4 separate regions of the Homo sapiens genome follow, and regions 2, 3 and 4 are each reported to be linked to region 1. Evidence: microRNA targets listed by miRTarBase, many of them from high-throughput screens and not tested one by one. Region 1 holds a microRNA gene; each other region holds the end of a gene's coding sequence.
The links. Region 1 holds the annotated microRNA hsa-miR-4721 (UGAGGGCUCCAGGUGACGGUGG, at 2,024-2,045, opposite strand). A microRNA usually pairs through its seed, bases 2 to 8, with sites in the 3' UTR of a target mRNA and lowers its output. Matches are read on the target gene's strand: a 7mer-m8 pairs with bases 2 to 8, a 7mer-A1 pairs with bases 2 to 7 and ends in A, and an 8mer does both.

Region 1 (3,155 bases):
CGGCCACTCTCTAGTTTTAAGAATACAGTATATAATACATATAACACACAAAGTATGTGTTTGTATGCTATCAGCGAGGCTTCTGGCCAGCAGCAGGTTACTAGTTACATTTTGGGGGAGTCAAGTTATATGTGAGGAGCCAGACACGGTAGCTTACACCTCTAATCCCAGCAGTTGGGGAGACCAAGGTTGAGCCCAGGAGTCCAAGGCTGCAGTGAGCTAGGATGGTGCCACCGCACCCAGCCTGGGTGACAGTGAGACCCTATATCTCTTTTTTTCCCTTTGTTCAGCCTCCCCATAGAGACCGTCGAAAATTGCCAATGCTGATTATATTTCAAGTCATCATGGAGTCATTGGCTATGATACTGCCACTGCACAAAGCTGGCCCCATCTCAAAAACAAGTTATATGTGGATTTGTGGCTGCATGGAGGAGGGCTGACACCCCTAACCCCTGCATTGTTCAAGGGTCAACTATAATATAAACATAACTTCACTGAGAAATCAAAAAATTTGTGACCTGCTTTATTGTGGTAGTCTGGAAGCAAACCTACAGCATCTGAGGTATGCCTGTCCAGTCCCTGTTCCCACAGAATGTGAATGGATGCTAGACATTCACTTAGTATTCCGAGGAAACAAGATGGGTTTGGCACCTGAGCTGAAGCCATGCTGGCTCCAGAGCGATAGAACATTCTTTCCCACTATCTCCCAGGAGGCTGAATAACGGCATCCTACTGTGTCTAGGCAATCACTAAGCTCACTGGACTTGATTTATCCGTTAAAACTGCTCTGGGATCTCACAAGCTCCCCATCTGTCTGGGGTTCAACACCCTTTTTGTCCTCCCCTATCCTCTCCAATTTGCACAAAGGACACAGGACACAGGCTGGCTTACTATTCAAAGTTTACTGACCTCCCCAGCCAGGCAGGCCAACCCTTCCGAGCAGGGGAAATGTCCATCTAGCTGCCCTCTGCTGGGTTGCAGCCTATGCCATGAGAGGGTACTGGAAGCAGGAGGGAGCCCTGGCTAGGGCAGGCCTTAAACGCAAGGGAAGCTGAGCAGAGATCTGCACACTCAACCCCATTTGATATTCTTCTCCTCCTCAGTCATGGCCAGCGTGTTGGTGACTAGACCGGTGCCAATAGTCCGGTTGCCATCTCGCAGGGTGAAACGCTGGCCTTTCTCTAAGATCATTGGCTGCCGCAAGATTAGGTTGAACTTCAGGTCCTCCCCGGGCATGGCAAGCTCCTAGAGTAGGAAGAGAAGGATCATGCGTGGCCTCCAGGGTGCCTTCATTCCTTAAGTCTTTTTTGGCTACCTCGGAGGTTAAGAGTCATGGGAGAATGCAGCAGGGGAATGGTTCTGCCTGGGGACAGCTTCATCCATCCCAGGCTGTCAGGCAGATGCAAACAGCATATTGAGACAGGAAAACATAAAAGAGACCAGTGATGAGTGTTCCTAAGGTATGTTCTTGAGAAAAAAATGTCTAGGAAGTTGTGGGTTATGCAGGTTTCTTGGTCACAGAACTTCTTAAGCCTTCATATATAATGAAACGCTCAAAAAGAAGAGACCTTTTCTAGGAAATCTTTCTGTGGGTACATGCTGGCAGAGCTAAACTTTTAACCTGCTTCAGCTTAGGGCACACTGGATGAGGACTCCCGCCCCTAAGTCCATGGGCCATGCCCCTTCTGTTGGCTAGCAGCGGCAAGCAGCCCCTTTCCACCTAAGGAAATAAAGCCACTCGGGTTGTCACAGTGTATCTTTGGAACTATGAGTGAAGCAAAGGTAATATAAAAAGTCCCCCCTCCACCCTACATTCCTCCCACCCACCGTACCTTCTCTGGGGGCAGGATAATCCGACAGGCCATGTCCCAAGTCAGGGAGAACATGACAGGCATGAAGTGGGACACAAAGGGCTTGTGGCGGCCACCTTCCTCCTTGCTGAGGATGTAAACCTGGAGGAGAGCAAGCAATGACGGTGAGCTGGGCTTGGCTGGAGGCTGGGGAGAGCTTGGCTCAACCCTGCCCACCGTCACCTGGAGCCCTCACCTGGGCCTCCACCTTCTGGTGGGGCTTGATGGAACCTGGCTTGACCATGACCAGGCCCCGCCGCAAGTCCTCCCGCTTCAAGCCTCGGACCAGGGCCCCGAGGTTATCTCCGGCCTCGGCCCTCTCCAGGCTCTTGTGGAACATCTCAATGCCTAGGACGGAAAGGGAAAAGGAGCAGGGAGAAGGAAGGCGAATGTGAGACAGAGGGAAGGCACAAGGGATCTGCCGGGGTAAGGCCACCCTTCAGCCAGGCCCTGCTCTCCAGACTGGCTTCCCAAACCTGTCACCACAGTGCGGATGTTCTTGCTATGTCCTAGGAGCTCACACTCGTCTCCCTTCTTTAAAATGCCACGCTCTAGTGTACCTGTCACCACGGTGCCACGGCCTGGGAGGGAATAAGACAGGATATCAGGGACCCCGAGCTAGGCTTCTGCTAGAGAGAGTGCGTGGGAACAGACAGAGTCCTCACCAGGGACGGAGTACACCGCCTCCACAGGCAGCAGGAAAGGCTTCTCCAGGTCCCGGGCGGGCACTGGGATGTAAGTGTCCACAGCATCCAGTAGCTTCTGCACAGACTTCAGGCCTAACTCAGGGTCCCGACCCTGTTGAGGGGAAGTGCCAGGACTCTGAAATCCCCATTCTACTTCCCTCGATTATCAAGAGCCACTTCCCAGACACAAAGCAGAGCTCTGGGTGCCCATCCAGCCCCACCCTCTGCAGCAGCTGCCCTGCCTGACCCCGCGTTCACCTCAAGGGCACAGAGAGCAGAGCCTACGATGACTGGGGTCTCCTCCCCTTTATAGCCAAACTCGGTGAGCAGCTCCCGGATCTCCAGTTCCACCAGTTCCACCATCTCAGAGTCCTGGACAGCGTCAGCCTTGTTCACATACACCACCACATGCTCCACCCCAATCTGTAGATGCCAGAGAGACAGGGACAATATACAGAGGGGCCCAACTCCCCACTCTTCCCTTTTGCATCCTTACCCAGGCTCTGAGTACCTGTCTGGCCAGTAATAAGTGCTCTCGGGTCTGGGGCATGGGGCCGTCATTGGCTGCTACCACCAGGATGCAGCCGTCGAGGGGTGCAGTGCCTGTGATCATATTCTG
Region 2 (3,000 bases), not on the chromosome of region 1:
ATCATCTGTGCCCCTTATTGCAGCCCTACCCGGAACAGCAATAGCTCCCGCCAGGACATTACCTTGGAACCCAGCCCTACAGCCCGAGTAAGTGTGTGTTTGGGTGGATGGGTGGATGGGTAGGGTGTAAGGGATGAGGCGGCAGGAGGAAAGGAGGGTTAGAGGGAGTGGGGAGAAAAGAAGACTTCCTGATACCTAGCAATTGACCACTTCTATCAACTTCCCCTCTGATATTAGGCAGCTGTCCCTCTGCCTCCCCGGGCCCGCCCTGGCCGTCCTGCCAAAAACAAGAGGAGGAAACTGGCCCCATAGCAGCCATACCTGGAGCTGGATCTGACCCTGATTGGGGAGAGCTGAGTGCTGAGCCTTGGGAGCCCCTGCCAGCCACCTGCACCTGTGGACAGTGGGTGGGGGCACTACTCCCCACTCAGAGCACAAATGCAACTCCTTCCCCTACAATCCCATCCTGAGCCATTGCAGGGGGCAGGGAAGTTCACCCCCCCCCACCACCCCCCCGCCCCCCCGAAGCCATGTCACTGAAAAGGCCTGGGGGGGATGGTATATGGCCCTTTCCCCACCAGGCGCTAAGGGGAACACCCCCTTCCCCAGGTCTTTTATTTGTTTAAGTTATTTTTGCACAAATGACTCTTTTATATTTAATTCGATTTCATTGCCTCCCTTCTTAAAGCCAACAGGCTCAGTTTACAAACCTGTGAGCTACTGTTGGCTGCTGCCCTCCTTCCCAGTGAAAGGTACAAAGCAATAAGCATCATGCATCCTCCCCTTACCCCTCCAACACCCCTCTGCCTCTGGCTCAGGTTGCTCAAAGCACAGATCCTCTCTTACCCCGTCCCCAGGTTTGAAACACATAGCCTCATTTCAAGGTGTAGCCAGGTTCCCCCGACTTTCCTCTGGGATATAAAAAAGGGGGTAAGGGGGCAAAGAGAGCCCTCTGGGCCTCTCCTCCCATACACACTACACTGCCCCTTCTCCCCCCATCAAAACGCTCAGAGACGTTGTGATGATGCGACTGAGGATTATGCAACGTGGTCCAACCGGAGCGGCCAGCATGACCAGCTGTCCAGGGGCTGCCTCCTGCCTTTTCTTTTGTAAAGACAAGACCCTTGGGAGTTTTAATTCTGTTTTGTACTTGCCCTGTGGGGCCTCCACTGCTTTTCTATGGGAGACACTCTTAATTTAACAGATGAGAATATTTTGAAACTCTGGCTCTGGCTCTGTACTCATTTTTTATTTAGTTCTTTGGTAAGAACAGGTTACAATTTAAATCCATCTCTTGTAGTATAGAGTGGCTTAGATTGCCTGTTATGACGAATGAATATCTATATCCTAGTGCTGCTTCCTCCCCAGGAAACACAGCAGAGGCCACACAGAGTACAACAGCATTTAATGGTCAGAAACAGTTGTACAGTATTACAGTCAGCCACAGAAGCTGTGTTGGGGGACAAGACCCAATCCTTCCCCACACCAGGCAAAGCAGTATTGGACATGAGTTGGCATGTGGCTGGGCCCACGTCCTTATCCCCCAGGCCTGAGGGGAGACCACCTTCTGATGATAACCAACCCCTAGCTACCACTCTGTATTCATCAGGGGAGGGGTATAAACCCCACATGCAAGAAGAACCCTTGCCCCCAGTGTCAAATGGGATGGGGATGCTAGAGTTATAGTAAAGGGGAAACCCTATGTAAGCTGTTAACAGAGTTCACAGGGGTAGGGATAACCCCTGTTCTCCAGCTCCCAAATGTGCTCACTTTCCCAGCTTCTTCATCCGTTCATCAATGCTGGCAAAGTTCCCCTCAACTGTGGCCAGGTTTTCACGCATGGTTGTCTGCACCTACAAAGTGGTAGAGAGGTTTTACTCTTTGTCAGGTCCAGTTGCTTAACTGGATGAGGACCTGAAGGAATTCTCTGAGAGAGAAGACAAGAAATGGAAGCACAATTTGTGGGCCACAGAGGGGGGATGTTTATAGCACCAATTTTCAAGCTACCCTTAGAGTACATAGACCACGCTTGGGGTGAGCCCAAGCAGGTAGGACTCGAGAATTCCCATCCTGACTTCAGCCAGAACAGTTTTTTAAAATCTGTTTTATGTAATGAGAGCTAAATAAGATTTTGTTGAAATGAGGGTTTCACTGGTTCAAAATGTTAGAAAACTGCTCTGGAGGAAAAGGATATTATTCTAAGTCCTTTATATATTTTTTCATTTATCTCAGTGATCCTGTGATTGATGCTGGTCTCTCGACTTTAATGCTCCTTCCAGCACTGAGAACAGTGCCTCCAACAGAAATTGGGACTTGCGGCCAGGTGCAGTGGCTCACGCCTGTAATCTCAGCACTTTGGGAGGCCGAGATGGGTGGGATCACTTGAGGTCAGGAGTTTGAGACCACCCTGGACAACATGGTGAAACCCCGTCTCTACTAAAAAAAAAAATTAGGTGTGGTGGTGCGTGCCTGTAATCCCAGCTACTCAATAGGCTGAGGCATGAGAATTGCTTGAGCCCGGGAGGTGGAGGCTGCAGTGAGCTGAGATCACACCACTGCACTCCAGCCTGGGCAACAGAGCGAGACTCTGTCTTAAAAATAAAAAACAATAAGAAATTGTGGACTTGCTGTGTGCCAGGCATTACTAAAAGAATGAAGGAGCTAGGTGAGGCTCATTGTCCAGGGCCAGAAAGGAAGCGACAGAACGAGATTAGGGCCTGCTTCTGACTTCAAAGCCCGGATTCCTTCCAGTGTACTGTGCTTATCAGGGAGAGTAAAGTTGAGACGACAAAGGGAAAGAGTGGGGTTTTATAAGAAAACATGTTCACTAGCCCCTAACAATTTGCCCATATTATTTCACCTCATCTACATAACTCTGAGGGAGGTATAATTTCCCAGATGGAAAGATGGAGGTTCATAGGTTAAATAAGTTGTCAAAGGGCCTTCACATTGAAAGCAGGATGGAGACTCCAGACCAACCCCCTGCCACAACACCATGCT
Region 3 (3,155 bases), not on the chromosome of region 1:
GTCTTTAGACTTAAAAATGAGACCCCTCAAAAAAAGGAACTCCTAATATTAGGGCTCATCTTCACAGAGTTTGCTGCTGTTTGAAAATCCATTATTAAGTGAGATAATCCATTATCAATACTCTTCTGGAGCAAACTTGAGAAGTGTCAGAAAGAGAAATGGCCAAGTAGCCCTTTAGTGTTGTTCTCAATGTTTTGTTCTCTTTTTAATTCAACAGCGTATTCTCAGCTATGACACAGTGGTGCAAACAACTGGAGACTCGTGGCACATACCATATGATGAAGACTTGGTAGAAAGATGTTCCTGTGAAGTACCAACCAAATGGCTTTGCCTCCACCAAAAGACATAGAGATTCTTACCTCTATGCTAAGTTTGTGTTTGGGTACCCTCTAGGTTGGCATCAGAGGCTCTTGAGCTGGTGTTTGTTTAGGGCATTGCCTCTGTCCTGAAGATAAAAGGATTCTATTAACAGCATTGACATTGATTTTTTAATGAAATGAGATATATCTTTTCATAACCAGCTGCGTTTTTTTCCCCTAACATTTGTTTTTGGAGGCTTATCAAGAGTTGGAGAACTTAGTGTAGAGCAAAACCTGCATTTCTCCTACTGGGCCAGCTATTCCACTTAGCTTGGGTGACTAATAGTGCTTTTGGTATCCATTTTTTGCTACTTCTGACCTTGCCTTCCAGGCCTACCAATAGCAGAATCAATCCATCTGTCCCTGAGATACTCATGTTGTTTCAAATGCCTCCTCCCATTTCTGGCATAGTCTCATTCTCTGTATGTTATGCCCTATCCACATGGAATCATTTATCGTCCTCTGTAATAAACTGGCCAAGATACTAAAGGCTTACTATTCATAGCAGTTTTTAATTACTTATCATCCAATTATTTGGATTGGAGAAGAGGGGGCATTCACTCCTCTTTTTCTTATTTTTTTTGGAAATAGAGTCTCAACTTACTCTGTCGCCAGGGCTGGAGTGCAGTGACGTGATCACAGTTCACTGCAGCCTCAAACTCCCAGGCTCAAGCAATCTTCCTACCTCAGCCCTCCTGAGTAATTGGGACTACAGGCATGTATCACCAGGCTTGGCTAATTTTTTTTTTTTTTTTTGTAGAGATGGCTGTCTCACTCTGTTGACAAGACTAGTCTCCAACCCCTGGCCTCAGTCGATCCCCAGCAATTTGGGAGATTGAAGCGAGAGAATCACTTGAGTCTAGGAGTTCAAGACCAGCCTAGGCAACATAGTAAGATCTCATTTCTACAAAAAATTTAAAAATTAGCCAGGCATGGTAGTTTGCACACATAGTCCCAGCTACTTTGGGGGCTGAGGTAGGAGGATTGCTTGAGCCTCAGAGGTCAAGGCTGCAATGAGCCAACGTTGCACCACTGCACTCTAGCCTGGGTGACAGAGCGAGACCTTGTCTCAAAACAAAACAAAGTGCTGGAATTGCAGACTTGAGCCACAGTGCCCAGCCTCACTTCTCTAGACTATGATGGTTTTTTCTTCATTCTATAATCTCTTTTCCAAATTGGTTCAACATTTTGTGAACACTATTAATTTCATCATTCAGTATATGTGGGCTTTCTAAAATATGCCAATTTTTTTCCACTTAATCAAGTTTGACTTAATTTAACAAAGTGATTATATTTTAATAGTTACATTTCTGTTTTTTCCACTCACTAGCCAGCTTACAGTTTATTAGCCCTTGATTTCAGCTGAAAATATTCATGTCTGCACCCCTTCATGATAGTTCTTTCTTTACGTATACATACTGTATTCAATATGCAAGAACAGGCAAAAACTACTCTATTGTGATAAAAATCAGAATAGTAATTGCCTGAGGAAAGGGATATGAGAGAACTTGAGAGAACTTTCTCGGGGTGATGGAAAGTTTCTTATATTGATTTGGGTAATAGTAACATAGCTATATGTATATATTAGTTAAAATTCCTCACACTAAACATTTTAAATTGATATATTTACATTTATGACAATATACCTCAAAGTAAGTTAGGGTAAGAAAAGATAATTACTTACATGAAATAAACAATGACCTCTTTTATATCAAACCATATACATGTGTATAATTAGGGTATGTATTATGCACAGAGAAACAATTTAGGAAAATCCAAGGAGGGGACGTTTTATCTTCTTACCTATTTACTGAATGCAACATTACTGCACACCAAGACAAAAGAGCTCTCCAGGAAAACATTGGATATATTGAGAGCATTAAAAGATACTGCAAAAGCTCTAATAAATTCAGTCTGCTTATTTTCCAAATTTCATAAACTACATACTTAGGAAACTGTGCTTTCAGTGAGCTAAACTTCTTTTTTTAAGTAACTATCATAGTTTTAAGAAAAACATTTTAAGAAGACAAAAAGTATTTATTAAGCCCATCTAAAAGGCTAATGCAAATTCCCAAAAAAGGAGCACATAGAGATAGAGGAGGAGGCCGAAGTGGTGGCTCATACCTGTTAATTCCAGCACTTTGGGAGGCCAAGACAGGAGGATCACTTTAGGCCCAGAGTTGGAGACCAACCTGGGCAACATAGCAAGACCCTGTCTCTTAAAAAAAAAAAAAAAAGACGGGAGAAGCTACAAGAAGAAAACTAGAACTTTAGAGCAGGAGTAACCTTAGAGCATGTAAAGTCCATTTTGGAGATGAGGAACAGACCCAGGAAGATGACCTGGCTTCCCTGAATCCCACGGCTAGTTAGTGCAGACATTTCAGCCATAACCCAGCTCTTCTAATTCCCAAATACTCTTTCTTCTACTGGCACATAGAGATGGGGGAGGAGTCAGGGCATGGTGGCCCACACCTACAGTTCCAGCACTTTGGGAGGCCAAATGGGAGAATTGCTTGAAGCCAGGAGTTGGAGACCAGCCTAGGCAACACAGGGAGACCCGTGTCGACAAAAAATTTAAAAATTAGCTGGGCATGGTAGCACATGCCTGTGGTCCCAGCTACTCAGAAGGCTGAGGTGGGAGGATCACTTGAGCCCCAGAGGTCAAGGCTACAGTGAGCTATGATCATGCTACTACACTCCAGCCTAGGTGACAGAGTGAGACCCTGTCTCAAAGGGAGGGAGGTAAGAATGAGAAGAAGGAACAGGGGTGTACCTCTTTTAAGGGCCCAAGTATCC
Region 4 (3,000 bases), not on the chromosome of region 1:
GTGACCCTTCCCTTTTTAGCACGAAGCCAATCAAGAAATGAGATAGCGTAGAGTTTGGTCATGCATTTTTTGCCACAAATGCGACTAGGTATTTATAGGGTGTGTTTCTGAGTTTCTGCTCTGATTTGTAAACTGGGTTCTTGTTTTTTATTACCCAGCCTGAAGAAAGTTCGTGGCAAAGTCTGGAAGCAAAGAATATCTAGCCCTCTGTTCAACACCAAACAATACACAATGGAACTAGAGCGGCTCTATCTACAGATGTGGGAGCATTATGCAGCTGGCAACAAACCTGACCACATGATTAAGCCTGTTGAAGTCACTGAGTCAGCATAAATAAAGACTGCACAGGAGAATTACCCCTATACCTGAGCCTCAACCTTCTGGGGGAAAGGGAACTAGATAACATACTTCTTACTTGTCTGTACAGTACCTTGTTGCAGATGGGTGATATATAATGGTAATAGAATAGCACAGCCAGACTTGCTTCCTGCATGGTAGGGAGAGACACAAAAGATGGGAAACTGCTTTTCCACAAGGAATCTCCGTAGAATTTTGCGGCGACCAGATGGTGCATAGGTCTGGAAGGTCTGATCTCCCTTGGTCTTCCATGGGATGGTTAGTGTGGAGGGGAGATATAGATTGTCCGGCCGCTTTGTGATTCCATGGATTGATTCAGTCTTCTGGATTTTTTTTTCTTTATATTTTGGGTACTGGAGCTTTTAAAAATGTTTGGTTTCAGGTATTTTTATTCATGTGAAGTGTATATGATTCTCTTGAGATAAGGTTTTAAGCTAAAATGTTACTCCCTGTTTTAGTTTCTGAACTCTGACAGATTGACAGGGACTTTGCTGGTGTAGTCTTTTTATAGGTTTTATAAACCACTTGAGCCTATATCAGTCGTTTTAGTGTCTGACCTAATATTTGGAGCTATCAGTGCTTTGTTGATTTAGATGATGACTCAAGATTTTTTCTGGTCCATTTCCCATTTCCTTTTCTTCCCTGACCCCCATACCCTCACCCTTAAAATTCTCCTGTAACTCAACTAACAAAATCAAGCCTGATTCAAAACATCCTAGGGTGTTTTAAACACACCATCTGGTGCCAAATGAAGATTTTTAGGAGTGATTACTAATTATCAAGGGCACAGTTGTGGTACTGTCATTGATAATAATATAGTTTTTTTTTTTTTCCTAATTTTGACCTGTTTCACCAGTGTTTTACCCTTGACTGCCCCTTCTATGCTGCTTCCAAAAGTGATAGTGTGTGTAAGATTTTTACCTTCCTTTCTAAAGTTTTTTTTTTTTTTTTTTAAGTGAGTCCTGTTCTTCCTATTTCTTTCAGCAGAAATGAAATCCCAGGTAAGTATAAGTATTCAAGTATTTGATCAGTAAGTCACAGTTATCTCCAGTGCATTAAATAACCTTCATCAAGAAATAGGTTATAGGTAAAATCTCTGAAGGATCATCTATGTATTCAAGTAATTATTTTTTAGATAATAACTGTCTTCTGGACTTGGTCTTGAAGTCTGTACAGATTCAGCCTCAGTAGTAGCGAACTGCACTGCTGTTTGGTTTGGAGTACAAATTAGACTTATAGTCCTCCTGGAACTTGAGTTATTAAAATCATAGGAATAAAATTATGGGATCTCAACAAAGGGTCGAGGGTTTGAGGCTTAAACAAGCCAACATATGAATATATGTTTTGTCTCGCTATACTGCACTTACGCTATCCAGTTGCAGGTAATTTTTTGTCTGCTAGTAGTGTTCTAGATTATGTCTTTCCAAAGCGCTGAGGCTGTGCACCTATTCTGTAGTTGCAGCTGATGCCTGAATGTATCCTAGCTGACAAATTATTGATTAATAAGAACTTGAATTTCTGGAAGATTCTTACTGTTAACCAAATTTTGAGCAAGGAGTCTCAAAGGTAATTCTGAACCAGAATTACATGTTAATGAACAGTGTACCTTTTAACAGTGTAAATCACGGAATATCCGTGAAGGGATTTCTTAATTTATTTTTTACCGGTTGATTGAAATATCAGTTAAAGGTTGCCAGCATGGTTGCAGATAAACTGATGTTTGAAATTCGCTGAAATACTTAATGTGGAATAGGATAATATACTTCCAATGCCCTCAAGGCTGTGACCTTACAGCCATTTTACATAGCACATCATTCCTCCTATAGGGATGAACTTTTTCCTGGCACGAAAAGTAGCCGCTCTGGTTGAAGCTTTGCTTATTGTAACAGGCTTTTATTTCCAGGTAATATGTCTTGGAAGACTTAATTCTGATTAGAGATATAGATATTACTGGAAACTAATTGTTTTTTTTCTATTGTACTCTGCTTTATCAAAGAAGTAAAACATTTAAATCGTACTACAGAAATTAAGATGTTGTCTTGCGATCCTTAATAAATGAATGATTTCCCTTTAATACGGCTGATGTATTTTGTATCCTGTTATATTGAGTGTTGGACTGAAGAATAGTGTCATCCAATGATGAAACCTATATTTAAACACCTCCAAACAGCATGAAAGGACCAAATTTCCCTACTGTAGCTATGATATTAGGAATTGTTTTCTCAGCCAGGTCTGGTAGAGGGTGGGGTTAGTTTATGATCCATTAAGAAGGCAAAGTGGCCTTGTGTGGTGGCTCACGCCTGTAACCCCAGCACTTTGGGAGGCGGAGGCAGGTGGATCACTTGAGGTCAGGAGTTCAAGACCAGCCTGGCTAACATGGTGAAACCCTGTCTCTACTAAAAATACAAAAAAACTAGCCGGGAGTGGTGGCACACGCTTGTAATCCCAACTACATGCGAGGCTGAGACAGGAGAATCGCTTGAACCCGGGAGGCAGAGGTTGCAGTGAGCTGAGATCGTGCCATTGCATTCCAGCCTGGACAACAGAGTGAGATGTCATCTCAAAAAAAAAAAAAGACAAAGCCTGTGATCCCCAACACACCCATTCATGCTTGCTCCTCTTTTGCTTGTGACCTCTCTGCTT

Region 2: the mRNA of MBD6 is a reported target of hsa-miR-4721. Seed matches in the 3' UTR shown: 7mer-m8 at 947-953.
Region 3: the mRNA of PRORP is a reported target of hsa-miR-4721. Seed matches in the 3' UTR shown: 7mer-m8 at 1,048-1,054.
Region 4: the mRNA of OGT is a reported target of hsa-miR-4721. Seed matches in the 3' UTR shown: 7mer-A1 at 2,128-2,134.

Annotation. Positions count from the first base shown.
Region 1 is chr16:28,841,904-28,845,058 of GRCh38, forward strand. It overlaps MIR4721 (microRNA 4721), which reads right to left and starts at 2,104; the gene lies at 2,016-2,104. TUFM (Tu translation elongation factor, mitochondrial) reads right to left here. Exons shown (of 10, transcript NM_003321.5): 4 at 3,048-3,152; 5 at 2,795-2,959; 6 at 2,516-2,648; 7 at 2,327-2,431; 8 at 2,047-2,198; 9 at 1,833-1,952; 10 at 508-1,245. The coding sequence ends at 1,072. RefSeq lists a silencer at 1-97.
Region 2 is chr12:57,528,923-57,531,922 of GRCh38, forward strand. MBD6 (methyl-CpG binding domain protein 6) reads left to right here. Exons shown (of 13, transcript NM_052897.4): 12 at 24-87; 13 at 238-1,226. The coding sequence ends at 312. DCTN2 (dynactin subunit 2) reads right to left here. Exons shown (of 14, transcript NM_001261413.2): 14 at 1,129-1,853. The coding sequence ends at 1,767. Among named protein-coding and RNA genes, the nearest start is that of MBD6, 7.6 kb to the left of the region's middle.
Region 3 is chr14:35,273,218-35,276,372 of GRCh38, forward strand. It overlaps PRORP (protein only RNase P catalytic subunit), which reads left to right. Exons shown (of 8, transcript NM_014672.4): 8 at 218-3,155. The coding sequence ends at 349. It overlaps PRORP-PSMA6 (PRORP-PSMA6 readthrough), which reads left to right. Exons shown (of 15, transcript NR_182666.1): 8 at 218-1,074. Among named protein-coding and RNA genes, the nearest start is that of PSMA6, 18 kb to the right of the region's middle.
Region 4 is chrX:71,573,462-71,576,461 of GRCh38, forward strand. OGT (O-linked N-acetylglucosamine (GlcNAc) transferase) reads left to right here. Exons shown (of 22, transcript NM_181672.3): 22 at 159-2,431. The coding sequence ends at 333. Among named protein-coding and RNA genes, the nearest start is that of GCNA, 3.5 kb to the right of the region's middle.